Homo sapiens: one gene and its partner. The protein of the gene in region 1 interacts with the protein of each later gene in a pairwise test. Each region holds a gene or a part of one and is shown on either strand. Other genes may lie near its edges.

The links.
Region 2: the proteins of ARL14EP (region 1) and SETDB2 interact in binary tests that used the Homo sapiens proteins (3 or more experiments, as listed by UniProt).

Annotation. Positions count from the first base shown.
Region 1 is NC_000011.10:30,315,949-30,331,966, forward strand, and holds the start of ARL14EP (ARL14 effector protein), read left to right. Parts: upstream 1-7,155; 5' UTR 7,156-7,254; intron 7,255-11,057; exon of another isoform or gene 11,058-11,110; intron 11,111-14,937; 5' UTR 14,938-15,000; coding exon 15,001-15,426; intron 15,427-16,018.
Region 2 is NC_000013.11:49,436,101-49,451,755, forward strand, and holds the start of SETDB2 (histone-lysine N-methyltransferase SETDB2), read left to right. Parts: upstream 1-8,173; 5' UTR 8,174-8,757; intron 8,758-15,452; 5' UTR 15,453-15,655. UniProt on the Homo sapiens protein: Histone methyltransferase involved in left-right axis specification in early development and mitosis. Specifically trimethylates 'Lys-9' of histone H3 (H3K9me3).

The DNA of each region.
Region 1 (16,018 bases):
TGTCATGAATGAGATAATACATGTGAGCTTATCATTCCAGTGTTTTCAGACATAACTGGAGGTCCATAAATAGTAGCAAGAATAATTATAGCTACCACTTATTGAGAACTCACTATGTGCCAGGCACTATGCTAAACTATATATATAAAAAGTTATACACAAACACACACACATACACAAACACATATTCATTTATTCCCCACAAAAACCCTATAAGGCAGATGCTACTTTCTCTATTTTACAGATAAGAATTTGAAGCTTAGAGAATTAATGTAATTTCTACACATTATCCTACTAGTGGCTAAGCCAGGATTTGAACCAGGCAGTCTGATTCCAGAGCCCACTTAGAGTTTTGTTTCATGCCCCAAGGAGGATACTGAAGCTTTAGAAAGCAATTAGTTACGCACCCTCCAGAATAACTAAAATGAAAGCCAACAATAACAACTGAGAACTCCAAGTGGTGGTGAGTATGTTTATGAGTGTAAATTGGTGCTAGAAGGAATGTAAATTGATGCAACCACTTTGAAAAACTCTTCAGCAGTATGTACTCAAACTGAACATACACATTGCCTATAATCCAGCAATTCCACTCCCTACTACATATCCAAATGAAAGTGTAAATGTATGTGGACCAAAAGACAGAATGTTCAAATGTTTGTTGCAGCATTATTTGTAGAAGCCCCAAATTGAATGAACCCAATGTCCATCAACAGTGAAAGAGATAAAAGAAAATGTTGTCGGTTTCACGTAATAGAAATACCACTCAGCAATGACAAATATTTAATTGCTTACGATGTCATACAGCATCAATGAATTTCAAGGACATAATACTGACCACAAGAAGCCAGACACAAAAGAATATATGTGGTACAATTCCAAAGCTCAAAGTCCAGAAATAACCAAAACCAATCTATGGTCAAAGAAGTTAGAATGGTGGTTACCTTTGGTAAAAGGTGCTCACAACTAGGAGACAGCATACAAGAGACTTCTGGGGAGCTCATAATTTCTTGACCTGGGTAGTGGTTATACAAATATAAAAATGTATCAAGCTATAGACTTAGAACTTGTGTACTTCTTTGTGGTATGTCAAAATTCAGTATGAAAGCTTACACAAAGGAAATGAAAACAATTACTAAGAATTCATTCCCCTCATTCCCTTTCAGAGTACATGCCATCTCATCCCAAACTTGGGATTCTTGCATGCAAATGTTTCTCTTTTTTCCTAATTCTTGGCTCCTTTGCACTTTCCCAAGTGCGTTTAATGAGAAGCTGTGAATTTCTCACAGGAAACTACCTCACTAGCTGATATCCTAAACTTCAGTTCCACTCTCTGACCACAACTGTTCATTGTTTCAGTTTGATCACAGATTTCACCTCCTTGCCTTCAATTTTGATTTTGAAAGCTCCATTTCTTTTCATTCTCAACCAGCTTTCCCTCTTTCGTTCATTTGTTTATTTGAAGAGATTTATCACTTCAACAATTCCACTTACTCAACTAATAGTGCTAGGCTCCTGGAATACTATAGTAAATTAAACTGACCTTATGTCTTATCTCATGATTCTCACCATCTAATGACTTCCATGAAAAAACCCTAAACTCTCTTGTCTCTTGTCCTTCTTACACATCTAACCGTCAACTGCTCTTGCTTAAATTAATTCTGTTGTCTGCCTTCACTGGTCCCACACAAGGGCAACTATACACTAGGAGAAAAATTGAAATTTTCACATCATTAATTTATGTCTCTGCATATTCATGGTCTCTAACTTCATCTAGGTCCTAAATGCTGTTCTATGTCCCTAGCAAGCTTTCTCTTTATTTTTCCTAACCTCTAATTGAAATTTAGCATTTCATTTATTTACAAAAGGCAGGCAACAAATAATAGTATTAGCAGTGCCTATTAGTACTGCTGCAGTACTAATAACTTTGTTTACAGTGTCTATAACTTTGTCACCAACAGAAATCACATAATTTTTTGTGTCACATTATAGTTGTTACAGATATCTCAGGATATATTCATATTCATTACTACTTTGCAATTATGGTAGTTATTAGATTTGACACCAGACCATGCTATTGTATGCATTAGGATAAGTATTGTAGCATTTTAAAAAAATATGTTTTTTGACACTCCTCCCATCAAGAGGTAAAGATTATGTTTCTTTCCTGTGAATCTGGGGCAAGCTCAATGACTCCCACATAACCAAGAGAATTCAGTGGAAGTGACGCTATGTGTTTCCAGGGGCTAAGTCATGAAAGGCAAAGAGGCTTTCACCTTGCTTCCTGGAGCACAAACCCTGGGAGCTCTGAGACACCATGTAATAAATCCAACTACCTTCTGGCTGTCATGCTGTGAGGAAGACCAAACTAGCCTAAGCAAAGAGCCCACGTGGAGACAGAAAGAGAGAGAGAAAGACCAACCTGGCCCAGCTCCTACTGTTACTTTGATTGGTAGAAACAAATAAGTGCTTCTTACAAGGTCTGTCAATCTGCTCCTGCTTATGGGAAGACAAACTATTCCCAGCCCTGTGTAAGTACTAGAAACTGTTTGGCCCACTGCTTTTTGGTGTCTTTTCCCTAGCCTCGTGGAGTTTCATCCTTCCATTGCACAGATAAGTACTCAGAGCCAAAGGGAAGTACGCAATACAAAGGAACACTCTTGCAGATGTCCAAGACTCTCCTGTGTGCCATGTCCTCCTCTCAGATACTCTGCCCATCAGCCTCTCCAACTTCCCATCTCTGTCACCTCCATCTCTGTCGCCTCCATTTAGTGAAATCACCGGTTTTTGTTTGGGTTCCCCTCCCTGTTCTAGGCTCTGGACACTGCCTCCAGATAGTAAGCTGGGGTCATTATGGAACTTAATTCATTCGTTTCCCTTCTCTCAGGGATCACGATACTGCACTGCCTGTTGGCTAATGTCTGAAAACAATGATTTCATAGATACATACATATATGTGTATATGTATATATACAACCCTTTCCTAAATATGTATAAGTATACATACTTATGATTTATATGAATGTATATATGTGTGTATATATTATATATCTTATACATATTATATATTTATAATATATATTTTATATATGTATATAAAATATAAATATTATATTTTATCATATGCATATATTTTATATATCTATATATTTATATATTATATATAACATATTCAGTATATAAATATATATAAAATGATATATACATATCATATATTTTATATTATATATATGCGTAAATACATGTATGTAATATATAAAATATATATTTTTTTCAAGTGATACTCCCATCTCAGCTTCTCCAGTAGCTGGGACTACACTTGTGAGCTACCGTGCCCAATTCATTTCACATATTATGCTCAATTTTCCAGATATTTCTAGTGATAGGGTAATTCTGCAGAAGCAGAAATCCAAATGTAATTGCTAAAACCTAAATTAAAACTGAATTGTGTTCTTTAATCTTAAAATTCACATTCAAAGACACAAAAAAGGGGTGCCTCTTTATACTTGACAGTAAAGCTTGTTGAAGATGTTCTCTCAGGTAGCTGTTAGCATCTCTAACTTCCCGCTCTTTAATTGGGTATATTCTGACTTCTACCATCACCATATCACTGAAACAGGTCTTATTACACCATCTATAACTATCTTATTAGTACAGCTAAGGAATATATTTAGTTCTTTTTATTTTCCTTCTAGTTCATTTCAGTCTGAGCTGGAAAATGAGTTATTTCCTTACTTGACTTTCTACACCTGTGCTATCCACTCTGGTAGCCACTAGGCACATGCGGCTACTGAATATTTGAAGTGTAGCTAGACCAAATTGAGAGGCACTGGAGGTGTAATACACACACCAGGTTTCCAAGACATAATATGAATTAAAGGACGTGACATATCTCATTAGTTTTTATGTTAATTGCATGTTAAAATGATAATGTCTTAATTATTGGGTTAAACAAGCGCTATCTCTAAAATTAATTTCATCTGCTTCTGTTTACCTTTTTATATCACTACTAGAAAATTTACAATGGCTTATGTGACTCACATTGTATTTCTAATGGCCAGTACTGCTCTATAACAACCTCTTGCACCGACAGAGCCCTGCTTTAAACTTTCCTTTCTTGGTTTGTGGGTCTCTGTTCTTCCCTAGTTTTCTTGCTACCTCGCTGTCTGCTCCTTCTCAGACTTTTCTGAGACCTAAATCTGTTGTTCTAAAATCGTAGTGTGCTGCAAAATCACCTGGGTTGCTTGCCAAAAATGCAGATTCTTGGATCTTATCTGCAGATATTATGATCTGGTAGACTGGCTTGGAGGACCGAGATTCTGATTCAGTAAAATAGAACGAGAGCTCAGAAATTTAGAATAATCTTTAGCCCTATTCTTTCTCATTTTACCCTATACATTCCATAGGTATCATCTTCCCTATCCCACCCAGCTCCAAAGATAGAACTACCACTCACAGACTAACATCTCCCAAAACTCTTATCTTCCAGCTGAGATCCCTCTCTTATCCTGCCCTCTTCTTCCAGCTGCCAGCTGTATATCTTCACTTGGAGGTACATTTGATAAGTTTGAGAAAACTTAGCGTATTCAGTATTTAAATTCTTATCTCTGTTCTCCCTAGCCCATTCCTCCTTTTGACCTCCCAGTTATCCAAGCTAGAAACCTGAAATAATTATTTACTACTTCCTAACCTCTATATCTAATCAGTTAAAAAATCTGACCAATTCTTACTTAACTTCTATCATCTCTATGCCTTTTAAATGTCCTTCATTTAGGGTTTCTCAATCTTGGCTCTACTGAAATCTTGAGCCAGTTAGTTCTTTGTTGTTGGAGGAGGGAGGTTGTCCTGTGCATTGTTAAGTGTTTAGCAGTTACCCTGTCCTTTACCCCTCTAGATACTAGTAGCACCCCTTGCTGGTACAGCCACAATGTTTCTAGACATTACCAAATCCAGTGGGAGGAGGTGAGTGGGAGGGAATCACATTTCAACCCATAGAGCCACTGCCTCACTTGATGGAGGCCCTCTTCTTAATCATCTGCGTTAGGGCAAGAGTTTCCACCTGGCCCTCTAGCCCAGGACCGCACCTCTCTTCTATTCTCTACACTCCTGATAGTTTTACAGTTTTCACAGGTTAAAATTCAGTATCTCTAATATGGCATAAAAAGGGCATTATTTGTTACCTATGCGCCTTTCCAGCTTTCCACTCTACCCATACTGAAAGGCTTTGCAGTTTCCTTAGGGATGGATGAAAGGCGTAAGAAGTGTTAACTATAGACAGTAACTAAGCTAGTAGCTTATGAGATAAATGCAAAACTCCTAGCATATTTTAAATATAGAATATGAGTAAGCATGTACTTTGTGAAACATAGGCAGGATTATGTAAAATATATAGAGTAAGTTAGTAAACTATAAGACATGCCAAAGTTAAATAGAAATATGATGGAATAGAGAGTCACTGATAGCCAAAAAGGGATGGAAAAACTAAGCAATGAGCAATCATGACATCTCTGGGCTATTAACTATGTCACCTCTAAATCAGCCACCCATTGGTCACACTTAGAATAGTCTCATATGTGCTCTGCCCAGGAAATGCAAATAAAACCTGTATCTGTTCAACAACTTACCGAGTAAGCTCTGGCTGTGACCAGGCATACTTCTCTGCGTCTATCCAATAAAGCAGGTGTGTACCATTGGCCCAAAGCACTTTCCACCTGTGGGCCTCCTTGCTGACACCTCACCTCTGGTCCTCGTAAGTATACCACCAGCGGAGAAGGCTGTTGTGGCAGATAGGATATATGAACATTACTTAACCCATGATTCAGGTGATGGCGTCCTTCCACTTGCTTGCACCTTATCCTAAGTGTGTCCACTTACCACAACTCTTTCACCTTTTCACTGGATACTTAAATTGAATAGGCTATATTATTTAATAATCTTAATTTGATCTGTGAGCCTTCTCTGTTTCATTACCTTTAGGATAGCTTGCCTAGTTTACTAGGAAGTCACAATTGCATCAAATTAAGTTCCATGCAGGCATTAATCTCCTCCCAGAACGCTCCTGCTTTAGCCCCTATCATTTTATCCTGTTTATATCCATGTGTTTCTGTTATGACACTTTTCACACCACACTGTGATTAACTGTTTATTCCTCTCTCACTAGTCTGTGAGCTCCTTGGAAGCAGAAATAAATTTTGTTTTTGTCTAATCATTGCTTAACAAAGTGCCAACCACAAAGTAAACAGTAAAAGAATTACAGAATGCAACCTCCTGCAGACACAGTTGAAGAAACTATTCATTGTTTTTTCCTTTCTGTCATTCCCTAGTTCTAGGCATCAAATCGCTTGCCTAGTCGGCGAGCAGTATGAAAGTGGTGGGAGGACCATAGACGCACTGCAGAAAACAGCTTACAGTAGATGCAGAGAATTACTAGCACGCTTGGGCCTTGGTGGGGCTTGTCTTATTTACCTGTTCCTCATTTTTCACTGGGAGTTTAAAACAAGTTTTTGTTTCCCTGCTATCCCGACCTTAAGATAATTAAAAGGCCAAGAATCTTTAAGAGACTTTCAGTTCTCCTGGATTCTAGATAATAAAACCCACTTTAAAAATTAATGAGCACCTATACTGTGACAGACAATAAGGATACAATAAAAATACCATTTCTGTTCTGAGAAAATTTACAAGCATCTTCCTGGAGCCTACATTTTACTCGAAGTAATAGCTATTTTTATAGCTTACAATAAAAGATGCATTTTGGAATATATTTCGCTTGAATTAAAGAAATAGAATGTGAGACCTTAAACAAAGGGTCCGTTCTTCAGATCCTTTTAACTCACACTCTCCTTCAGGGGTCGGGGTATTTGGGTGCAAAAGTTTACTATCACGCACAGGTGTAGAGATGTACAAATACGATCCAATTTAGTGGAAACTGTGTCTTGTAAGAGATGGCCCCCAGGGACCTCCCACATCCCTAACCTCTCGGAGGACTGCAAAAGACAGCATCTGAAGCACCTCTTGCCTCGCCTTGAATCATTTGCCACTTCACACCGCCCCGCCCCTTCCGTCCCCGGAGGCGGCCAGCCTCGTGTCCGCTCTAGGCTTCTCCCGGACGTCTCTTTGTGGTGGCGTTGAGCTCCTCTAGCCCGCGCTTGCCGTCCTCTCAGTGGTAGCGCGGGGACTGGCTGGGAAGCGGTCGGTCGAGTGTGGCCTGTGTGGACTCGCATCTTGCCCGAAGCCGGGCGGAGGAGAGCTCAAGCTAAGGTGGAAGGGGAACGGGGGAGGCCCTGGAGAGGAGTGGGAGAGTGGAGACAGGCCCCTGGGTGGCGAGGGAGCCCGGCGGCGTAACGGGGGAACCCGGGGAGAGGTGGAAGAGGAGGCCCGCACACGTGAGGGGGATTTCCAGCTGCTGGCCGGGGCCTCTCACCCCTACCCCCGCGTAGTTCATCTGCGACGCAACGCCTTGTGTCAAAGCCCAGCACAGGTTCTGCCGCCTCTGACCTCTCTGAGGGTCGTCGCCTGTCCTGTAGGCCCAGGACCTTCAAAGCTACGATTTTGACGTGAACTACTTAGGGTTATTGTGGCCTTGAACTCCGTAGACAGCCTTTATCTCTGCTATTTTTGTTTTTAATTTTTCAAATCAGAATCCTTTCAACCCTGGCCGTTTGAGGCCAAAGGCTAATGTTTATTTTTCCATCCCGGTACCATGAACTTAGTAGGTGCCCACTGGACGGATCTGGTGGTTTTAGTCATTTGTAAATAGCCGTGAACTAAGGAAGAAATGTATGTGGCCTCTTACAGGGTTGGGTTGGGAATCATTGCAGGGTTTGGGGGCACTCTGTTAGGCATGATAACAACAGCTCTAGGCTTGAGTTTCTTCATCTGTAAATGAGAATGATAGTACTTTCCTCAGGGTGGCTATGAAGGTTCCTGAAATGATGTTTGCCCTAAGCACTGTACCTGGCATGTCCTGACTACCACACTTGAACCAAATCTTTTCAATGGTGTTATGGACTATATTTTTGTTTTAAATTGCCTTTACCTTTCTTATTGTACCTAGATCTTCCTGAGGATTGAGACTCTCCTCTTTGCCTTTGGGCCAATTGTCATGTTATAGGTAATCAGTATTTGAAGATGACAGGCACAAAAAGTTCACAGTTGCAGGATGCGTGACTTTTGTAGGCGTATGTACCCATAACTAAAGCTCCTGATTTGGGGAGTAGGGGTAGATTAAATTATATTTTTATTAAATAAGAGATAATCTGGGAAGACGCTGTGTAAGTTGTAAGACCCTATGCCAAGAAAAGCCTTTAATTTTTTTCATAAAACATTTCATGAAAACTTTTTTTATGTTTTTCATAAAAGAGACATCAGTTGACCTAAAAACGAAGTAAATTTTTTGTTTTGTTAAATTTCCTCTAAATGTTACTTTTCCCACTAATAAGGAGACTGGTAACAAACTAAAAAACTATGTTAAGGGAAATTAACATATTGGAACGGGTATTTCTGCATCTCCCCTACAAATTTAGGAAGAAAAAGTGAGTTCCCTAATTAATCCTCAATTCCCTCTGCTGTTGTTTTGTTAGTGGCTGTTTTGCTGTTTTGTTAGTGGTGGGGGGGGTGTTCTGCATTAACACCCCGAAACCCCTGTGATAATGTCCTAGACCTTGCAAGCATCATGGCCGCGTGTGAGTTTTCTCAGCTTCCTCAACCTAATCTACCTTCCTTACCGTTTGGTAATGGGCAGCAAGAGAAAATGCTTAAGAACTCTTTAAAACTACTGATGTTTTAAAGTAAAGCTGGATAATTCCCTGAGCTGGCAGCGTTCAAATTGTATGAGGAGCAAATACTTTTGTTTACTGCCTAAGGTAGTAGGAGAGGTCTAATCAAAGTATTCTACATTTATTTCATTCTCTTTTGATTCTTAGGTAGTGCTACAAAAATATTAAATGTTAATCTTAGAATACAAAACATGCTGTATTTAGGCACTAAAGTAAAGTGATGTCAATCCTAAGGCAGCAGAAAGTCTTAATTTTCTCCTATGCAGAATTTTTAAAAGACAATGTCAGATAAGAAATCTGGACTTAGGAGAGACTTTATTCAAAAGGGTTATCACAAAAGGAGAAAAGGGACTTTTGCAATGGGTAGAACCAAAAGATCTGCAAGAATCTCCAAGGAGTGAACTGTGCTAGAAAGTTTTGGTGTGAGGAAGTAGGATATAAGGGTGGCTTGATCTAATAGTAGATCTGAGAATGTTATTCCTTGGCTCTGGCTGAGAGTTGGCCAAAGCTCAGGAACCTGGGGGAAGGAGAGAAACTAAAGTTTGATTAACAAGTATTTTGTTCCACTTGATCTGTAGGGCCAAGCAGATCAGCAAATTATTCATAAATTCATAGTTGAAGCAAAAAATGAGAATTTGGAGGGTCTTTCTTTTGCCTGGTCATAGGTAAACAAGGGGGGATCCTTGAGTCTTACCTAACTCAAGGGTGGGAGGATTTTTTAAATTATAGCTAATAAGGAGCCAGCACAGGGCTCAAGCAAAATTCAACTTGCCAAAAAGTGTTTTTATTATTTGACATTGAAAAGTATTGAAAACCTGGATTTTATTTATACCATGGTGAATCTTTCTAAAACTGGGGTTTTTGTTATTGGTTTGCTTGTTATCCTATAAGAAGCTGGATTTTTTTTCTTCCATGAAGAGTACTAGGTTTTATATTGACCAAAGTGTTTGGAGCAAATTAATCTTTTCTTGCGTTAAAAGATTATTAAAATAGGAACTGGTAAGATGCTATAACCAGTTTAAATGACAATTAAAAGTAGACATGTTTATAGAGCAGGAATATTGAAATAAATGTGCAAGTGAGGGCAAAATTGGCTGCTTCCACAGTCAGACGGAAGTCCATTGAACCTTCAGCAGATAGAATTTACAAGAATACAGACAATTATTTTGCATTGCTGTTGGTTATCTACAGTTGACAGTTGTAAAATAGCTCCAAGATGCTGAAAGAATCAGACTTCCCATGTAATCAGAATGTGAAAACCTGAAAGGCTGTGCTCTCAACAGTGCAGTTTTCTATTGAAGCAGATGTTTTTCTCTGTCCTTAGTGTATCGAATTTAAATCTCCTCTCCCTCAATAATCTTCCCTAGAGTTAGACTTCCTGTAAGGCAAATACATATCTGTGTTTTTCTTACTCTTTTTTGCTATCTTCTATAAAATATAGAAGATATCAAAACATTTTAAATTTAAATTTTTTAATTGAATTATCTGAAGCAGTACATAGCAAACTGTAATGTGCTTACAAATCACTTGGGTATCTTTTTGAAATGCAGATCCTGACTCATTGGGTCTGGAGCTGATACTGAGATTCTGTATTTCTACTGAGGTCTCAGCTGATGCCAGTGCTGATTCAGGGAGAGTAAACAGTAATGCATTTCCAACTATATTAAGGAAGGGGCCAGATAAATCATCGTTATGGAAGAACATAGCACTGTACTGTAGGTGAAAGGAACAATATGAACTTGCTGGACTGTCATTTGAAGAAAACAAAATATAAACTGTAGGCCACATTGCCAGAACACAGACCAAAATGAGCAAAAACAGTTGCTAGGAAACAGGCCCAAATGCAGAACTTTAGCTTATAGGAGGAAGTCAGAAAGAGCTGGAAATGAGAACATTGAGGAATATAACAGAGGAGGAACAACCAGAGGGTGTGATTTTTAGAATGCAAACAGTGACCACTTAGGATCAGTGTCTGAAATTTGGTGTTCCTTGAGCTAGCTGGACTTGGACTCTTTGACAGTATGTGAACAAACTGCCTAATCGTAGATCAGAAAGCTAACCTATGGAAGACTTTAAAACTACCTTGACTCAGGTGTGTGCAGTTTTACTCAGGTGTGTGCAGTTTTACTCAAGTGAGTGGGATTAGTTTGCCGCTGAATTTTAATCTGTGTAAAATTTAGTTTTTATCACAGTTGGCAATGTCTTCTATCAGATAGGATATTTTAATTTTAAAATGAGCTGATCCTGTAAAGAAGTAATTCGTTGTCTGAAATTCAAATCTAACAGGGCATCCTGCGTTTTTTATTTGCCAAGTCTGGTGACCCCATTTTCTGCATCCAGTAAGTAGAGATCTTTGGTGCTAGCTCAATGTGCTGCCTGTTACTAAGAAAAACTGAACTTCCTGTAAACAACTTACAGGACCCACCTACTCAGAAGGCTGAGGTGAGAAGATCACTTGAGGCCAGGAATTTCAGAAATAGGTATTCAACTTCACTGGCACAAGTTACAGAGTCTATTCCATTAGTTTCCTTTAATCATGATGAACTCTGTTGAATTTTGTAGTAATTTAGCCATGAATAAAGGAAACTAATGGAACAGAGACTCCCCAATAACTAAGGAAAAGAATTTTTTACCTAAAATTAAAATTAATAGAGTAAATGAAATTACCCTAAAGGGTAAAAATGTATTATTACTATGGACAGATAAGGTTTCTAAAGTAATTAGTTTCCTAAATCCAAGATGCTTTTCCTATCAAATATGACCATGGTAGCCCAAGTTTTGAATATTAGGAAATAGCTTTATGGCAAAAAAAGTTCCATTATAGATCTGTGGCTAAAAACTGGTGATGATTACCTCCAAATAAAAAGAATCTCTGGCATTAACAAAATACTAAGCATTATTTTCTGTACAGTGATGAGGGATAGTTGTCCTAGTTTCCCTTGTATTAAGAAAGGTCAGGCCAGGCACGGTGGCTCATGCCTGTAATCCCAGCACTTTGGGAGGCTGAGGCAGGCGGATCACGAGGTCAGGAGATCGAGACCATCCTGGCTAACATGGTGAAACGCCATCTCTACTAAAAATACAAAAAAAAAAAAAAAAAGCAAAATTTAGCCAGGCGTGGTGGCGGGCACCTGTAGTCCCAGCTACTCTGGAGGCTGAGGCAGGAGAATGGCGTTAACCCGGTAGGTGGAGCTTGCAGTGAGCCAAGATCTCGCCACTGCACTCTAGCCTGGGCGACAGAGCGAGACTCCGTCTCAAAAAATATATATAAAAAATAAGAAAGGTCAAAGCCAGATTGTGTCCCTTATTTGCTAATATACATTGCCACATAGTTCGTTGCCTTGTAACTTTACCTCTGATTTCCTTTTTCTCCTCCTTAATTTATCTTAATCCAATTATCTGTTTGAAGAAAAAAAAAATTTTTTTTATTTTTTTATTTTTTGAGATGAGAGTCTCGCTTTGTCGCCCGGGCTGGAGTCCAGTGACACGATCTCGGCTCACCGCAACTTCCGCCTCCTGGGTTCAAGCGATTCTCATGCCTCAACCTCCCATATAGCTGCACTACCACACCTGACTAATATTTTTGTATTTTTAGTAGACACGAGATTTCACTATGTTAGCCAGTCTAGTCTAGAACTCCTGGCATCAAGTGATCAACCCACATTGGCCTCCCAAAGTGCTGGGATTACAGGCAGGAGCCACAATGCCTGGCTAGAAGAAACTTTTCTAATTATTACTGTGATAGAAGCCATTTTATCTGATTTGATTGGGACCTGTATTAGTTCATTTTAAAAACTGACTAAAACACAGTAAATGAATATAAATATACTCTGTTTTTACCAGCTTTAAAACTTTTTTCAGTTAAAATGTTCAGTAACATATTTTAACACTTTAAAGTGTATTTTATTTTTTAACTTTGTAAATACAGTATTTTGACCTAAAACACAGACATTTATTCGCCATTTTTTGTTACCTGAGGCCAGAGTCTTCTTTTTATATGATTTTGCTGATTATTGTTTTTCTCTGCAGAAACCATATCAAAATGTGTTTAAGATTTCTCTCCAGTTTTTGTTTTTTTTTTAATTTTGCAAAGCTTAAAAACACTTGTAAAATTGCTGAATCCTAGACTTCACAGTCCCTCCCTACCACTCAGATTTCAGTGGTTCACATTTTTTCTCAACAGCAGATTTTTTCCTAATGAGTTGCATTGGTTGCATATTTTCTTGAGAATCCAACTTTTTTTTTTAATTTGCTTTGAAAATTATTTATGAAAAATTTCAAATAGAAAGTATGGACAGTAGTGAAGCACTTATGTACATGTCACCAAACCTTATTTTCTGTAAATCTTTTTGGGGAAAATAATGTTTTTTCCCCTCAGAAGTATCCACAAATGTGATATATGTTACTCTTATGTATATTTTAGTATATATTCATGTTTCATCTGTAAATCTTATGTACTATCTTATCTTTTTAAATTTTACCTTTAATGATGATACTATATAACCTTTACAACTTTTTTCACTTAAGATTGTCTTTGAGATTTATTCATGTTGATTCACGTAATTCATGTAGTTTATTCATTTTAACTGTTATGTGGGAGTCCCTTGTATGAGTAACGATTTCACATCCTTTACAATTAGGTTATTTGTCATCTTTCACTGCCAAAGGCAGTGAATGCTGAAAGTTTTCGTATATAACTTGTGCTCTTATTGGAGATATTTTTCTCCATCTGACACCCAGAACTGAAAAGAGCTGAGTCCCAAGGTGTATGCTTCCTCAGTTTTACAAGAAATTGCAGAAAATGTTCTAAAGCAGTTGCAGCAATTTACATTCCTACCAAAGTTATTATAAGGAGCATGTGAGAGTTGGACACATCTTAACCAGATATCAGATTTTTAAATTGATTTCAAGCAAATGTTTAATAAATGATATTTAATTTGCATTTTCCTAGGAACTATGGGGGAAACAGTTTGTATGCATGTATTGGCTTTTGTTCTCTTTCTCTGTGAATTGCCTGACTATATTTGTTTAGTTTTCCAGTGGACTCTGTCATTTTCTAATTGATTTTTGGAAGTGAGGAGTTACTCGAATATTTATGATAATAATCCTAACACCTTTCAAGTGTCTTTTTTTTTCTCCTTTAGTTATACAGAAATGTGTAAATTTTACATATAATCAAATATATCCATCTTTTTATTTATTTATTTTTTTGGTATCTGCTTGCTTGTTTGAAAAATTCTTCCATACTTCCATGTCAGAAAACCTTCTTTATTTTCTCATAAACATGTTTAGTTTTTCTTTTCATGTTTAAATCTTTAATCCACTTGTTATTGATTTTTGTTTGTGCAGAAGAGATCTAATTGTTTTTCCATATGGTTAAAGTCCCTTCTTCATTAGTGTGTGATACCCATCGATTAATAGTACCACATGTCATATACTGAGCCCTCATCTACTCATGGATCTGTTTGTTTATACTATACCAATACCATAGTTTTAATTAGAATAGGTTTAAAGTAAATCAATATGTTACTGTATTTTCCTTCAGGATTACCTTGGCTTTCTTAGACCTTTGCTCTTTCATATAGACCAGCTTGCTAAATTCCAAGGGGGTGGCAGTAGAATATCTGATGGAACTTTGATTGTAACAGAACTGAATTTACAGATGTATTCCCAGATAATTGACATATTTTTTATAATGAGCCACTCCATGATATATAGCTGCATTTATTTAGGGTACCGTTTTTGTCTTGCAGTTTGATAATTTTCTCCATGAAGGTCTTGTTGTATGTCTTTTGTAAGAGTCACATATTTTGTAAGATACAGTGTTTTTTGGTTTCTAGCATCCCTGGTGAATTCTCTTATTAGTTCTAATAGTTTGTTAAACCTCTTGTATTTCTCATGTATCTTAGGATAATATTTCTTATTTCCTCCTTTTTAATTCTTATGTGGTCTTAAATATAATCTGTAATTGCAGATGTTTTCGTGAAGTTCTGACTTTACAGGGAACGCTTCTGTTTGATTATTAAATGTCTATTATAAGACTTCGATAAATACCTTTTTTATTCCTTATTTTCTTTTAGATAGGTGTTGAATTTTATCAAATGCTTTTTCAGTTTCCTAGATAAACTTGCAGCACAAATTTGATTCTCTTTAATATTTTCTCTAGGGTGATCAGCCCATGACCTAAACCTCCAGACAAAATAAAACGGAAAATTTGCTAGAATCAAGAATGATGGATCCATGTTCAGTTGGAGTCCAGCTTCGTACTACAAATGAGTGCCATAAAACCTACTATACTCGTCACACAGGTTTTAAGACTTTGCAAGAATTGTCATCAAATGATATGCTTTTACTTCAACTTAGAACTGGAATGACACTTTCTGGGAACAATACAATTTGCTTTCATCATGTAAAAATTTACATTGACAGATTTGAGGATTTACAGAAGTCATGTTGTGACCCATTTAACATACACAAGAAATTAGCCAAAAAAAATTTGCATGTAATTGACTTAGATGATGCCACTTTTCTGAGTGCTAAATTTGGAAGACAGCTTGTACCTGGTTGGAAGCTTTGTCCAAAATGCACACAGATAATCAATGGAAGTGTGGATGTTGATACTGAAGACCGCCAGAAAAGGAAACCTGAGTCAGATGTATGTGTAATAGTCATTTTTTTCTACATTGTGAATTCTACCATGTAGGATTTTGCTTAACTATAAGAAAATCATATTTACATTATTACTAAATTTGTTAGCATACAGTGAATTAAAAGGAGGGGTGAAAGTGGATGATGTTTCTAAATATTATTCACATATACTGAAGGTCAAGATTGGGGGATAAAGAAAGTAGGCCTGGGAAAGTAATAATAAAATATGCCTAAGACTCCAAGCTACAACTTTTAGTGCGAAGACTTTAGGAGTGGGTTTTAGAATATTCTGGCCAAGCCAGGATTTAGTTTCTTTTCTGATACCAAAGTAACTACACGGGACATGGCAACCACCAAGGGTCTTTGCAGCAGGATGACTTCGCCTTTATATGAAGGACTTGGAAATCACTGCTTTAAAAGGAACATTAGAGAGGTGACTTACAGTAATTGTTTTTTATTTCACTCTTTTTTTCTCCTTTGACACTGTCTCGTTCTTGAGTTTTTTAAATGCTTGTGAATTTTCTTTGCTTCTAGTTCTGAATTCCTACTTGATATGGTCAAGGCTAATTTTAGGACTCCTTGAGGTAAAAAAAAAATAA
Region 2 (15,655 bases), on another chromosome or scaffold:
AAACATGTTGTTCCATGGCTGTTTTGCTTTGTATGTTGCTGTTTAGAAGTCTGTTGCTAACCTCTCCTTTCTGTCTGGAAGCCCAGAGGAATTTTTCTTCATCATTTTGAAAGTCCAACTGTTTTACTAGGACATGACTTGGAACTGACCATTCTGGATCAATTTTCCCAGTACACAATGAGCCTTTTCAACATGTAGATTGGAGTCATCTCTTATTTCCAGAATGTTTTCATGGATTGAAACTTAACTATTAGCTTTGCTATTGTTTTTTTCTTCTTAGGAACTCTACTTTTACTTATTTTCTATATCAATCACTTTCTATTACTTTTTAACCTTTCTTCATTTAATTTTCATTATCTTGGTTGTTTTCATACCTTTTCTCAATGCTCCTTATATTCAGTCCAATCTTTTCTTATGTACCTTGGAATTTAGCTTCATTTCTTTCTTTATGACTTTTTTTTTTTTTTTTTTTTTTTTTTTGAGACAGGAGTCTCTCTATATTGCCCAGGCTGGCCTCAAACTCCTGGGCTCAAGCCTCTCAAATAGCTGGAACTACAGGCATGCACCACTGCATCTGGCTTTAACTTCATTTTAAAAGCTGATTTTTCTTTTGATTTATTTTATTTCCTGAGTTCAGTAAATTCACTTTTCATATCTTCCTCTTTTTGTCCATTTGTTTTGCAGTTTTGAATTTGGATTTGAGACTTTTTATCTCTACAAATGTTAGTTTAAGGATATTTTAAATTCTGGTAGGAGTACTGTGCTGTAGTTTTCTTTAGTGCTATAGTTGGATGTTTCGGGAAGACTTTTCATCAGCTAAAATTTTTTAAAAACTTTTTTCCTTATTTTTTGTAGAGACTAGGTCTCACTATAGTGCCCAGGCTGGGCTCGAACTCCTGGGCTCAAGTGATCCGCCCACCTTGGCCTCTCAAAGGGCTGGGATTACAGCTGTGAGCCACTGTGCCCAGCCCAGTTGAAATGTTTTGACTATCATTTTGTTTTCCAGCTAAAGTAACTTTATATGGATGTTGCCTGCCATCTTCTGTTCATCTTGAAATATTTTATTTTTCCTAAACCAGATATAGTTGTGTATAGGCAGAAGCAAGGAATTTAGATGACTTAACTGGATTTCTTAGTAAATAGTACCTAATAAAGTGTTTTTTTGTTTGTTTGTTTTTAATTAATGACTCCTTTTTGGGTGGGAGAAATGAGTATCTATTTTCTATTCTGGTTCACCAAGATCCTTAATTTCTACTACCCCTTCTCTCTATCACCAAGCCTCCAGGTAGATGGTGACCCTTCCAAGGCACCCTCTTTCCTTTCCCCAGAAGCAGTACTTTCATGAGACTGCGTCTTTGGTCTCATTTTCTTTCAAGTCTCTTATTTTGTCTAATGGATCTTACACCTCTTCTCACTTCTCTATCCAGGGTGGGGCTTTCTCTTTCTGGGAATTATCTGTATTCTGCTACCCCTAGGTCCTGCAACCTCTCCTCTTTTTTTACAGTCTCCACCTTGCTTGCCACTTCTCCATGGATTCTGCTAGACTGCAGTGTTGATTTCCCTGCATGCCCATAGACATTTTGCTAGCTATTAATGTATGCTTACATATCAATAAATTTGTATGGGTTTTCTCTTGTTAACCTACTGTTAGTTTAGTTCAGCCAACTCAGTTATCAAACCTTCAGAAGCGAAATTTAAGCTTCCCTGCAAATTGCTGGTTATTATTTAATATTATTTTGACACAGGGTCTCACTCTGTTGCCCAGGCTGGAGTGCAGTGGCGCAATCACAGCTCACTGTAGCCTTGACCTCCTGCGTTCAAGAGATCCTCCGACCTCTCTCAGCTTCCTAAGTACCTGGGACTACAGGTGTGTGCCACTACGCCCAGTTAATTTTTTTATTTTTTATTTTTTTTAAGAGACAAGCTTTCGCCATGTTGCCCAGGATGGCTGGTCTCAAACTTCTGGGCTCAAGCAATCTTCCTGCCTCAGCCCCGCAAAGTGCTGGGATTACAGGCATTAGCCACCGTGTCCAGCTGGTATTATTTTTATTAGTGTTCTATCTTGCACTTCTGAGTATGTTTAAGCTTCCACCTGTCAGCTTCAAGGGCTTTTTTCTCCCAGCTAATGCCTAAAAGGCAAACAACCTTATTCTACTTCTCATTCACCCTCCTCTTTTCCTCCCATTTTTTTGCGGGTTATATTATTTCTACAATGTCAGACCATGTAATATTTATATACTATTCTATCATCATTATCCTCATCTTTTAATCTTGATGCTACACACAAAATATATTTGATTTGCTCACCACCTGACCTTATGTTGAAGATTTTCCAATCATTTCTTGGTTGTCTGAAATTTGTTCTCTAGTATACGCTTCAGAAGGATTCATGGGAACAATTATAGCCATTTTCCTTGAATTATTTCATGTTTATAAATGTTTGTCAATGCCCTGAATTCTTGAAGGGTAGTTTGGTGAGATAGGAATTATTTTATTTCTTTGAATAAATACTTTCTTAATATCTGACATAAAATGTTGCCACCAAAAATCCAATCTGATTTTCTTTGCAAGTGACCTGCTCTTTTTATTTCCCCCATCAATGCAAGAAGGGTTTATTTTTAAAAATCCAACAATTTTACAGGACCACATCTCAGTGTTAACTGTTGTGGGTTGATTTCTCCAGGTTTACAGTATGCCTTTCAACATATGTTACATTTAAACCTACTTTAATGTTAAGCGTTCTTGAATTACAGTCCTAATAGTTGTTCTGGTCCATTGCTTTGGCTTGCTTTGTTTTACTGTAGTAAAATAAGGAACATAAAATTTACTGTTTTAAAGTATTCAATAAGTGGCATTAAGTATATTCAGTGTTACATAAACATCACCACTATCCTTGGGCTTACATTTGGGGAACTCCATTTATATTTATTCTGGCTCTCTTTGCCTGTCTTGTCACCTCTTGACTCCTTTTTAAAAATCTTTTTATTTTCTTCATTTTTCCATTTTTCTTATCGTACTTTCTGTGATGTATATTCACTCTTGGTTTCTAATGCAATCATCACTTTAAACTGTCTTTTTCTTAATCTTTTATTGAGTTTTGTCTGCTCTCATTGCACCTCCTTCTATGGTCTAGCCATCTCATTTCTTTTTTTCCCCTGAAAACATAGAAAGAGGTGAATTTTATTTACTTTTTTATAATTTCAAGTTCTCTTTTAGATTTGGGGGTACATGTGCAGATTTGTTACATGGGTATACTGTGTAACGCTGAAGTCTGGAGTATGACAGATCCTGTCATCCAGGTACTGGGCATTATACTCAACAGTTAGTTTTTCAACACTTATTGCATTCCTTCCCTGCATAGTATTCCACGGTTCATATGTAACCAATCTATCCCTGATGGACACATAGGTTGATTCCACATCTTTGCTATTGTGACTAGCACTATGATGAACATATGAGTGCATGTATCTTTTTGGTAGAACAATTTCTTTTGGATATACACCCAATAATGGGATTGCTGGTCAAATGGTAGTTCTGAGTTTTTTGAGAAACCTTCAAACTGATTTCCACAGTGGCTGAACTAATTTACACTCCCACCAACCGTGTGTAAGTGTTCCCTTTACTCTGCAGCCTTGCCCACATCTGTTGTTTTTTGACTTTTTAGTAAGAGCCATTCTGACTGGCGTGAGATGATGTCTCATTATGGTTTTGATTTGCATTTCTCTGATGATTAGTGATGTGGAACATTTTTTCATCTGTTTATTGGCCACTTGTTCTTTTGAGAAGTGTCTGTTGATGTCTTTTGACCACTTTTTAATGGGTTTTTTTTTTTTTTTTTTTTGCTTGTTGAATTAACTTCCTTATAGATTCTGGATATTAGACCTTTGTCAGATGCATAGTTTGCAAATATTTTCTCCTATTCTGCAGGTTATCTGTTTGCTCTGTTAATAGTTTCTCTTACTGTGCAGAAGCTCTTTAGTTTAATTAGGTCCTACTTGTCAACTTTTGTTTTTGTTGCAATTGCTTTTGAAGACTTAGTCATAAATTCTTTCCCAAGGCTGATGTCCAGAATGTTTCCTAGATTTTTTCCTAGGATTCTTACTGTTTGAGTTCTTACATTTAAATCTTTAATCCATCTTGAATTGATTTTTGTATGTGGTGTAAGGTAGAAGTCCAGTTTTGTATGTGGTGTAAGGTAGAAGCCCAGTCTTATACACATGGCTAGCCAGTTATCCCAGCACCATTTATTGAATAGGAAGTTCTTTCTCCATTGCTTCCTTTTGTCAATTTTGTTGACCAGATGGCTGTGGGTGTACAGCTTAATTTCTGGGCTCTCTATTCTGCTCCATTGGCCTATATGTCTGTTTTTGTACCAGTACCATGCTTTTTTGGTTACTGTAGCCTCAAAGTATAATTTGAAACAAGCTACACATTCAGTAGCACTGAATGTGTAGCTTGTTTTGGGCAGTATGGCGATTCTAATGATATTGATTCTTCCAATCCATGAGCATGGAGTGTTTTTCCATTTGTTTGTGTCATCAATGATTTCTTTCAGCAGTGTCTTGTAGTTCTTGTAGAGATCTTTCACTTCCTTGGTTAGAGGTATTCCTAGGCAGTGTGTGTGTGTGTGTGTGTGTGTGTGTGTGTGTGTGTGTGTGTATGGCTATCGTAAACAGGACTGCATTCTTGATTTGGCTCTCTGCTCCAACATTATTGGTATAGAAACGCTACTGATTTTTGTACAGAGTTTGTATCCTGAAACTTACTGAAGTTATCAGTTCCAAGAGCCTTTGGTGGAGTCTTTAGGGTTTTCTAGGTATACAATCAGATCATCAGCCAAGAGAGATAGTCTGACTTCTTTTCCTATGTGGATGCCTTTTGTTTCTCTTGCCTGATTGCTCTGGCTAGAACTTCCTACGTATCTCATGTCTGAGCTCTTATTTCTGAATTTATGTGGTTCTTTCAAAGATTTCATCTTTTCCTTAAATTCTCTTAGCTTACTCTGAAATATTTAGATTGTCATTTTCATCTGCTTTGTGGCCACATTTTTGGGGTATGTTTTCATAATCTCGTGCAATGTTTTATGGCTTATTTTGATGATTTTCTTATAATGATTTAGTGTATATATATATATATATATATATTCCCTTTTCCCATATATTTATATAACTATATACTAAAAGGAGGTTCCCGGCTAGGTACAGTGGCTTATGCCTATAATGCTAGCACTTCGGGAAGCCAAAGCAGGAGGATCACTGGAGTCCAGGAGTTTGAGACCAGCCTGGGCAACATAGCAAGATGCCATCTCTCCAAAAAATTAGCCAGGCATGGTGGCACATATCTATAGTCCCAGCTACTCTTGAGGCTGAGGAGGGAGGTTCACTTGAGCCTGGGGGGTCAAGGCTGCAGTAAGCTGTGATCATGCCACTGTATTCCAGCCTGGGCAACATAGCGAGATCCCATCTCTAAAGAAAATAAAAAGGAGGTTCCTATGTTACACTGTATGGACATGCTGGAGTTTAAAAAAATCTATTTCCTAGTGGAATCTGGTTGTTTCCAGTTTTGGCCATTACAAATAAAATCGCTATAAATATTTGCAGAGCAGCCAATATAGGTTTTCATTTCACTTTTCATCAGAGAAGCATACAATCATCAAAGGGGAAATTAAAACCACAATGAGATACCCCATCATACCTCATATAAAGGCTAAATATTTTAACTGATAATGCCAAGTGCTGACAAGGATGAAAAACTACTGGAACTCTCTTATCTTGGTGGTAAATTTCAATCTAGAGTGGGCTTGCCAGATCATGTGATAAGGATATGATTAATTTTATAATAAACTGTCAAATTGTCTTCTAGGTGGCTGTACTATTTGCAGTCTCACCAGCAAGACTAAGGTTTCTCCTTGTTTTGCATCCTTGCCAGGAAATGTATTGTTTGTTTTGACATTCTGAGTAAGAGGTTGTGTAGTATCTCACTGTGGTTTTAATTTGCATTTTTCCAATGACGGTGGTTTTAATTTGCATTTTCCCAATGACTATTCTATACTTCTTTCATTTAACACAAAATGGTAACCACTTTCCTATGTCATTCAACAGCCTATGCCACTACTCTTTGAAAACGTTCCTTTTAAAAGGCTGAAAAATATAATGATGGGATGTGTCATAATTTATAAAACCATTCTTCTACCATTAGATATTTGTTATTTCCAATTTTTCACAAGAACAAAATTACACTGTGATTATAAAGCTTTGATTCTATCTCTATTTCCTTACAAGTTTCTTAGAAAAGGTCAAAAGGTATATGAACTTTTGTTTCTCCATGCATTTTGACAAGCCAACTGGAAGATACAAGTCAAGTGGAAGATACAAGCATGGAATCAAGTAATTAAGAAAAATGATTCTCAGGCCAGGTGCCGTGGCTCACACCTGTAATCCCAGCACTTTGGGAGGTGGAGGCGGGCAGATCATCTAAAGTCAGGAGTTCAAGACCAGCCTGGCCAACATGGTGAAACCCCATCTCTACTAAAAATACAAAAATTAGCTGGGCGTGATGGCCGGTGTCTGTAGTCCCAGCTACTCAGGAGGCTGAGGCAGGAGAATCGCTTGAACCACGGAGGCAGAGTTGCAGTGAGCCGAGATTGCACCATTGCACTCCAGCATAGGCGACAAGAGACTCCATCTCAAAAAAAAAAAAAAAAAAAAAAAAAAAAAAAACATCAATTATTTTGCTGTTTGTTTTGTTTTTTGGTATTCCTGATGCGAGATGTCTTTATCATGTATTGTTGATTAGGTTGTTCATCAGTTAATCTTGAATAACTGAAATCTAAGCTGAAGGCAATAATACATCGGCTTTCTTTTCATGCAAGTCAAACTGCTAAAATCTACCACAAAATATTAGCCTTTCATCAGCTTGGTCTTCAGATCCAATACATTTTCCCCTCAAATGAAAGACAATGCAATGCCATCCACAACAATGCTAAAAAAAAAAAAAAAAAAGGAGGAGGGAAACAAGGTTAAGTCCTGTCTTCTTCCTCCTACCCCAAAAAGAGCTCAGAAATTAAGGTGCTTTCCCTAACAAAGCCTCCTCCTGCTCCATGAAGTGACCAAGCATGTCATGGCAGACCCAGAGATTTATAATCTTCAACATATCGTTATCGGGGAAATCAAGATTTGACAAAATTCTTCCTTCACGCCCCGTTTCTGCAAGACCACCACTTTCTAGCTTAAAATAAAGAAAAAAAAAAGACAGCTGCAGGAATGCTTGGCTGCCCGCTAATGTACAATTTTGCCCAAACGCAGAACTTGACGCCCACTATTACCAAAGGATGGCCTTAGTAAAGTAACCCCCGCGAAGAGCAAACTGTTTAGCAGCCGCTCCCTCGAAAAGGACGGAAGAGGAGGTCTCTTCTGAACCTGAGGATAGTAGAGAGGCACTCCCCTTCCACTACTAGCTTTGCTCCTTTCTCAATCAGGCAGTTCATCAGCTAGCCTCCTTTGTCAAAGGGGGTTGATGGTCAGAATCTTTGCGAGACAAAAATTACTAAAAGAGCTCCCAGGAACCAATGTTAAGGCATCAAAGGCCCCGCCCAGCCCCCACAATGATCAACAAACCAAAACCTGGGATCCCTACTATTACCACCACCACAACCATCACCACCACCACCACCACCATTCCTCGCTCTCTCTAGCCAGGGATGAGACTCAGGCCCAGGAAACCCATCCTTTCCGCAAGTAGGAAGGCGCTGGGTCTCCTCCCTTAGGCCTCTCCTTTACCCCATTGTTCTCTCCGGACCCCTCCACTACGGCCAGGCGCTATGTATGTTTTCAACCCCCAAGAAGCCCAGTCCCAGCCACACACAAGATGGCAGCCTCACACCTACCGGAGGAAACAGCTGCGCCACCACTCCAGTGATGCCGGCCTCTCGACTACGAGTAACTCCATTGGCTCAGCTACAGTGCGCGAGACAAGCCGAGAGCGCTAGCAGTCAATCGGGAGGCGGCGCGCTCGGGCGCCACTGCGGTGCCAGCGGTAAGTGCGCCGAGTCTCTGAGGCGTGAACCAGTGGGGAGTGCGACCAATCAATGGGCTCCTGGCTGGGTGGTGGGACGGCCGGCGTCCGACTCCTCCCATGTAGTGATCGGTTTAGGTAGGTCGGCCTGGTCCCCGGCGGAGGTTACGCCTTCCCTCATCCCCGGTAGAGGCAGGGCGGGACTGTTGTGGTTGAGATGAAGGCTAGTAAATGGTGAAGTACTTCCCGGCCAGAGGGCACCTGCGCTCGGGAGGTTTGGGCGGCTTGGCGTCGGAGGAGAGCCCCACCCGCGGAGGAACCCAGCCTTGCCAACGGAGCTGGCGGAGCTCACTCCTCAGGTCAGGCGGGCGGCGTAGAAAACGCAGCGGAGCCAGGTGAAACCAAGGCACCGCCGTGGCTGGCCCCCGACAGTTCCTCTAGCCGGGAGGTTGGAGGAGCTGAAAACGCCGCGGAGCCCTCGGCCGCCCGAGCAGGGGCTGGACCCCAGCCCTTGCAGCCTCCCTTCTCCTGGCACCCAAGTGCAGTCCTGGCTGCAGAAGGGGCCGCGGGCGCACTGAGTTTCCAACCTCCATTTCAGCCTGTCTGTCTCAGGGTGCAGCCTTAATGAGAGGTGATTCCTAAGCTGCTGGGAACCTGAGGTTGTCAAAGGGGCGGCAGGAAATGGACAGCAGTATAAAACCCAGAAGCAGAACTTGAAGGTTAAACCACTAGCCCATTTCACAGGTAAGATTACACGAGCCCTTAAATACAGCAAGTTCAGTCATTCATCCAAGATCATGGAGTTCAGATTAGATAGTAACACTTCTGACTCGCTATCAGCCACAGCCCAATAAGTAATTAAGTAAGGAAAGATATGTAATTAACTGTGCTCTTTGGCATGTGGAAACCTGCAGTGAGCTCTGTAAATACTAACACATGAGGCCAAGGAGAGGAGTAAATTTGAAGAGGTCAAATGGAGTAACCAAAGCATAGGCTCTGAAACCATGCTGCCTGGTTCCTTATTTCGTGTCTGCCACTTACGGTATGGCATTCCTTAGCTTCCTCATCAGCAAACGAGCTGCTAATTTAACCCACATGACTGTTAGGGGGATTAAATAAGAACACGTGAAGTAGTTAGAAGCGTGACTAACCCGTGGTTCTTAAGCGTGACTTAACCCGTGGTTCTGTCGTTACAATTAAAACGTAAGGAGCCGAGAGGAAATGGTAAACGTGTTTTTAAAGCCTGTTTTAGAAACGAAAAGGAACCATACATTGAAGCAAAGCAGACTGGCTTAATTATTTTTCTACCAAAATGAAAAAGTGAGAAGGGGAAAAAAGTTTTTTAAGCCCATTTACTCTCTGAAATATTAACACCAGTTGTCTCTGGATGATGGGATGGTGTTTAAATTTTCTCCTTTATGCTTTATTGTATTTTGCAGATTTTCTCCAGGAAACATGTTTTACTTGTGCACGTTCAGTTTTCAAATTTTCAGGTGTGAACGCTGGTGAGAGCTGCTTAAAAACAAAGCTATGGGCCGGGCGCGGTGGCTCACACCTGTAATCCCCACACTTTGGGAGGCTGAGGCGGGCGGATCACCTGAGGTCAGGAGTTCAAGACCAGCCTGGCCAACGTGGTGAAACCCCGTCTCCACTAAAAACACAAAAATTAGCCGGGCGTGTGGTGGCGGGCCCCTGTAATCCCAGCTTCTCGGGAGGCTGAGGCAGGAGAATCGCTTGAACCCGGGAGGCAGAGGCTGCAGTGAGCCGAGATCACGCCACTGCACCCTTCTCACTGCACTGGTGACAGAGCGAGACTCCGTCTCAAAAAAAAAAAAAAAATCTATGGCCGTGCGCGGTGGGTGGCTCACATCTATAATCCCAGCACTTTGGCAGATCACTTGAGCCCAGAGTTCAAGACCAACCTGGGCAACATAGACCTCATGTCTAAAAAAAAATAAAACTATTACTGAGTGTGCTTAGGTGGAAGTATAAATTGGTAGAACCTTTCTGGAAGAGAGTTTGACAATATGCTATAAAAAGCTTTAAAATGAATTCCTTTTTGAACATTTATATATACTTAATTTTTAAAAATTAAGTACACTTTTACATTCTTTTACAGAATTGGTACCTTGTAGATAAAGAGCACAATCCAGATTTTGACCTTGAGTTTTTTCTTGCGTGTCAAGGTTATACTTATAAAAACAGTTGAATAGCTTCCCGTATTTTTCCTTCTTGAAAGTTCGTATATGATAAAAATTCTCCGTTCTTTGAAAGTTTTGTACAAGGAATGTTCCCTCACTCCTCTCCCTCCCTACTCCCGCTGGAGACTTTGGTACAGAGCTTTCAAGTGTTTTTTAATACTTACACCTTTTAATACTGTTACATATTCTATATAGGTGAATATATACATTTGTAATTTTTTAGTGGAAAAATACTATACTACATCATTCTGTAGCTTTATTTCTTGACATTGTTTTTGCAGCCTGTACATGTTATTTATAGCTCATTATGTTATTTATGGATCATTTCTTTTACCTGCTGCATAGTGTTCCAGTGTATGACTGAATTGATCTGTTAATATAAAACATTTCTTTGTCTCTTTTATTGGTCTTGTTGTTAAATCCTATTTTGTTTGATGTGTGCTGTATAGCACATTTTATTGCCATTCTCTGAGAACATTAGGTTTCCAGTTTTTCACCATACAACAATGCTGCAAGGAAAATCTTTGTGTTTTCTTGTGCACATGTGCTATTTCTCTAGGATATATACCTAAAAGTGGAATTGCTTGGTTTTAAGTTGTGAGCATTTTTAGTTTTAATAGGTCATGCTAAATTTGCCTCCAAAAATACCTCTACTAATTTACATGTTCCACAGGTAGTTTATGAGAGTTAAGTTTCTCTACAGTTTAGACTAACATGAGATATTATCTTCTTCATTTTTGCCTAGTGATGGCTGCAAATTATATTTTTAATTTTAATTTTCATTCTGTGATCTAAGATTGAAGTGTCTATTATGTTTGTTAACCTATAATTTATATGCATTTCTATAGTTTTTTAAAAACATGTTTAAGTTCTTTATGTGTCCTCGATACTGTATTTTTAGAAGTCTCTTTGGTGTGTATGGTTAATTATGCCTCCTTTTTGTTGCTATTGTTAAAATATGTTAAAAACATTTTCTCTTAGCTTCTTGCTTGGCTTTTGACTTTTTGTTAACTTATTTGTTCTACAGATGGATTTTCCTCTGCCAATCTTTAGGCCTCTTTTTATCTTACTGAATTTCTCTAAGACTTCCAGTACAGTATTGAATAAAAACAGTGATAGCAACTGTCTTCATCTTGTGCCTAATAAAAATTCTCCGAATGTTTCATCATTGAGTATGATGTTTGCTGTCATTGAGTAGGATGTTTTGGTAGATAGCCTCGATCAGAATAAGAAAGTTCTCTTTTTTCCTAATTTGCTAAGGGGCCCCCCCACCTTCCATGGAATAATTTTATATTGAATTGTTTTGTTTTTCTGCATGAAGTGATAGTTTTCCTCCCTTTGCCTGTTAATATAAGCATTCACATTGATAAACTTTTCATGTTAAACTTTTTAGGTATTCTTGGGATAAACTATTTTGGTAATACATTCTTATTCTACTGCTGGATACCTTTATTCAGTATTTTTGTGTCTAAGACCCAGTAGTGATTTGGGCCTTGAGTTTTTTTCTTGCATGTCAAGGTTATACTTATCTCATAAAAAAAAGTTGAGTAGCTTCCCATATTTTTCCTGCTTCAGAACAGTTTGTATATGATAAAAATTAGCCGTTCTCTGAAAGTTTTGTACAATTCATCTGTAAAAGTTTATGGACCTAGTGTACTAGCAGTGAAAAAAATTTCATATCTCATAAAAAAAAATTGAGTAACTGCTTAAGAAAAAGTTGAGTAGCTTCCCATATTTTTCCTGCTTCAGAACAGGTTTGTGTTTGATAAAAATTATCTATTCTTTGAAAGTTTTGTACAATTCATCTGTAAAACTTAATGGACCTAGTGAACTAGCAGTGAGGGGTGGGGATGTGTGGCACACATCTCTAGTAATATCTTCAGTGTTTTGAGCCTATTTGGTAATTTATATTTTCCTAGAAAATTGTTCAGTTCGTCTGTGCTCAGGTTCATTGACATAAAACTGTCTGAATTTTAAAATGTTTAAAATCTCTTCAGTAGCTAGAGATCTATCTTCATTTGTTATTATTTATTTTGTTGCTTTTTTCCCAGCTTCTTTAATTGAATGTTTAAGTCAATATTTTCATTTTGCTAATAAAATTTATTTAAGGCCTAAATATCTCTTGGCATGCTGCTTTGGCAAAATCCTTCAGGCTTTGAAATGTATTACTTCAACCGATCACCATTTCTAAATGTTCTTAAATTTCTCCTTTGATTTCTTCTGTAAACCATATACATTATTTGGGAAATTTGATTTTTTAATTTCCGCAGGTAGTATGGGGTGGGGGGTTGATTTACTACATTCAGTGACTATGCTCTGTGTAAACAGTCTTTTGGAATTTGTTGATAATTCCTTTTGGTCTCATAATAGTTTTTGTAAATTTCATGCTTTTCCTCCCACAAGAAGTATTTTCTGTTGGGTGCAGGGTTCTATATATTTTTTGGATTAAGCTTGTTAATTTGTCATTTAAATCCTTTATACTCTGGTTTTTTACCCACTTTATCTCAGTTCCTTAGATTTGTTACTTCATCACCAAATTGTGGATCTGTGCATTTTCCTTTTAATTTTGCTTTATATATTTCAGAGTGATGTTATTTGTACATAAAGGGTCATGAATATTAAATCTGGTGAATTGTTCTGTCAGCATAAAATATTTGTGTCTTTTATTGATTTTCATATTCAACTCTTATTTGATACGTTTCTTCTTATAATTGCAGATGTCTTTTTCCAGTCTCTTCGTTTTCAGCCTTGCTGTGACATTTTGTGTAATTTAAGTGGGTCTCTTATTTTAAAATATCATATCTGGGTTTTGCTTGCCATCCAATCTGAGAGTCTGCCCTTTAATAGGTAATTCACCTTTATTGTGATTATTGACATATTTTGGCCTTATTCTTGTCATTATTTAACAAGCTTCTCTTTGTATCTTTTATATCTTATTTTTCCACCTGTTTTTTGGAACAGAGTCTTGCTCTGTTGCCCAGGCTGGAGTACAGTGGCGTGATCTCGGCTCACTGCAACCTCTGCCTCCCAGGTTCAAGCAATTTTCCTCCCTCAGCCTCCCAAGTAGCCCAGATTACAGGTACACACCACCACACCCAGCTAATTTTTGTATTTTTGGTAGAGATGGGATTTCGCCATGTTGGCCAGGCTGGTCTTGAACTCCTGACCTCAGGTGATCCACCCACCTCAGCCTCCCAAAGCGCTGGCATCACTTTTATTTTTAATTGAGGTTAGCCCCAAGTTTTCTTTGTTCATTTTTTTTTAAGTTGATTAACTTTACATTTCACAGTTCTTAAATTTATGTTTTCTTAACAAAGTGTACATTTAGTCAGTTTTGATAAGGCCCCTGTAAAGAAGAAGTTAGCATGCTTCTACTTTGCTTTCTCTCATCTTGAAACAATCCCTTCCATCTCTCCTCCAGAAAAGAACATAATCTCTCATGATATCTTTAAGAATTTTTCTTTCATTTGTTATTAAATTCAGTTTACATTTAACATTAATGTGTTTTACTCATTTATTTGCTCACTATTGCTACGTATACCTCAGTGCTTTCTTATAGGTTCATTTTTCATCATCAGATACTTATTTCTTTCACAGTCTCTGAGTGACTCTTTGAATGTCTGCAAATGTCTTTTTTTCATCTTTAGTATGGAAAGATAGCTTGGCTGGATATAGAGTTCTGGGTTCATACTGACTTTGCTTTAACATTTTGCATCTGACATTTCTGATGAGAAATCTCATTACTAGTCTAATACACCTTCCTTTTAGATAATCTACATTTTTCTGGAAACATCTAAGACTTTGTGTTTTTGATATTCTGAAGTTAGTCACGGTTTGTCTAGCGATGTGTGTTAAGAATTTTATCCTGGTTGGTACTCAGTGGATTCAGTTTGCTTATGTGTTTTCCAGTTCTGAGAAATTCTTGCTCATTATTGCCTCCTCTCCATTTTCTCAATTTTTTGCCTCCTCTTGTTTCCTTGCTCTGTGTTCTTGGTGAATTACTCAACTCAGTCTTCCAGCTTACTAACTGGCTCTTCATGTTAGTCTGTTCTGTCATTCAGTCATCTATTGAGTTTATTTCAACAACTGTTTTTATATCCAAGATAGCTAACTGGCTTTTTTTCAAAATTGTGTGTTATTTCATGGATGAGATTTCCTTCTTTAGCTCAGTCTCTTTCATAGTGTAGCCTTCTTCAGATATTTGAGGACTCTCAGTTGTGCATTAATCTCCTCTGAGAGGATTCCTGCCCATCGTTTTGCTGTTGTGATTGTGGTTGCCATCATCTCTATAGCTTCCCATCTGTTTCCTTTCCCCAGAAGGGCCTTACTGACTTGGCCCTTAGAGAGTTCCCTTTTTGTTTTCAGCATGGCTATATATATATATTTTAAATCTCCTAACATTTCCATGGTTTGGTGTGGAAGTGGCAGAAGAATTTACAGTATCTTGACTAACATCTTGAGAATTAAAATTGTTGATCTATTTTTGACCTATTATTCTACCTCCAGATATGTTATCCTAGGGAAATTGCCAGAGATATGTATAAAGTATATTTATTTTAGCATTATTTATTATACTAAAAATTAATCTATAAAGGAAAACAATCTAAATATCGAATATAGAGGTTTATATTATTAATTAATATTTTTATTAAAATTTAATTATTAAAATATTTAATGTACTATAATGTATGCGTTATTGACCAAAGTATGTTATACAGCCAGTTGTATTATACAAAAATATTAGTGATGGAGGAAAATGCAGGAAATGTTTTTAATGAAAGATTATAAAAAATTAAATATACTACAATCCAAATTTTTGTTTTAAAACTACATTCTGAAAGAATAACAATAATTGGTAGTATTCCTTGAATCTTTCGTATGTCAGGCACATTATATGTAATTAAGTCTTGTCCTCAGAACAACCTGTGAGATAGTTAGTATTATCCCCTTTTTAAAAGGTTTATAAAAGACTTATAAAATGGAGATAGTAATATAAATACAAATATATTAAATATGGGTGATAGGATTGGGTGGGCCTTCTCTATTATTTCTAATTTTGATACTTTACATATTTTTTCCAGATAACATAATGTTTTTTTGTAATGGTTCATGCTGTTTTAAAAGATCAAGCTGTTATAACAATATCTTATTTCCTTATATATACATATATATATATATATATATATATATATGTGGTCCTTTACAAATATGCACTATTCTTTATTGTTTTCCTTACAGAATGTTTCATCCATTTGTGGACCAAAAGATGGAGTTGGTTTTTATTTTTAAAAAGATAATGTTAATGATCTGATACCACTACAAATATTTACGTGAGAAGATTCATGGACTTGTCTTTTGGTTGGACTGTCACTCATTTCTGAAAGTTTCTTCAGCCACAATTTCTATTTGAAAATTCAAGTATCAAAGGATACCAGGTTTAG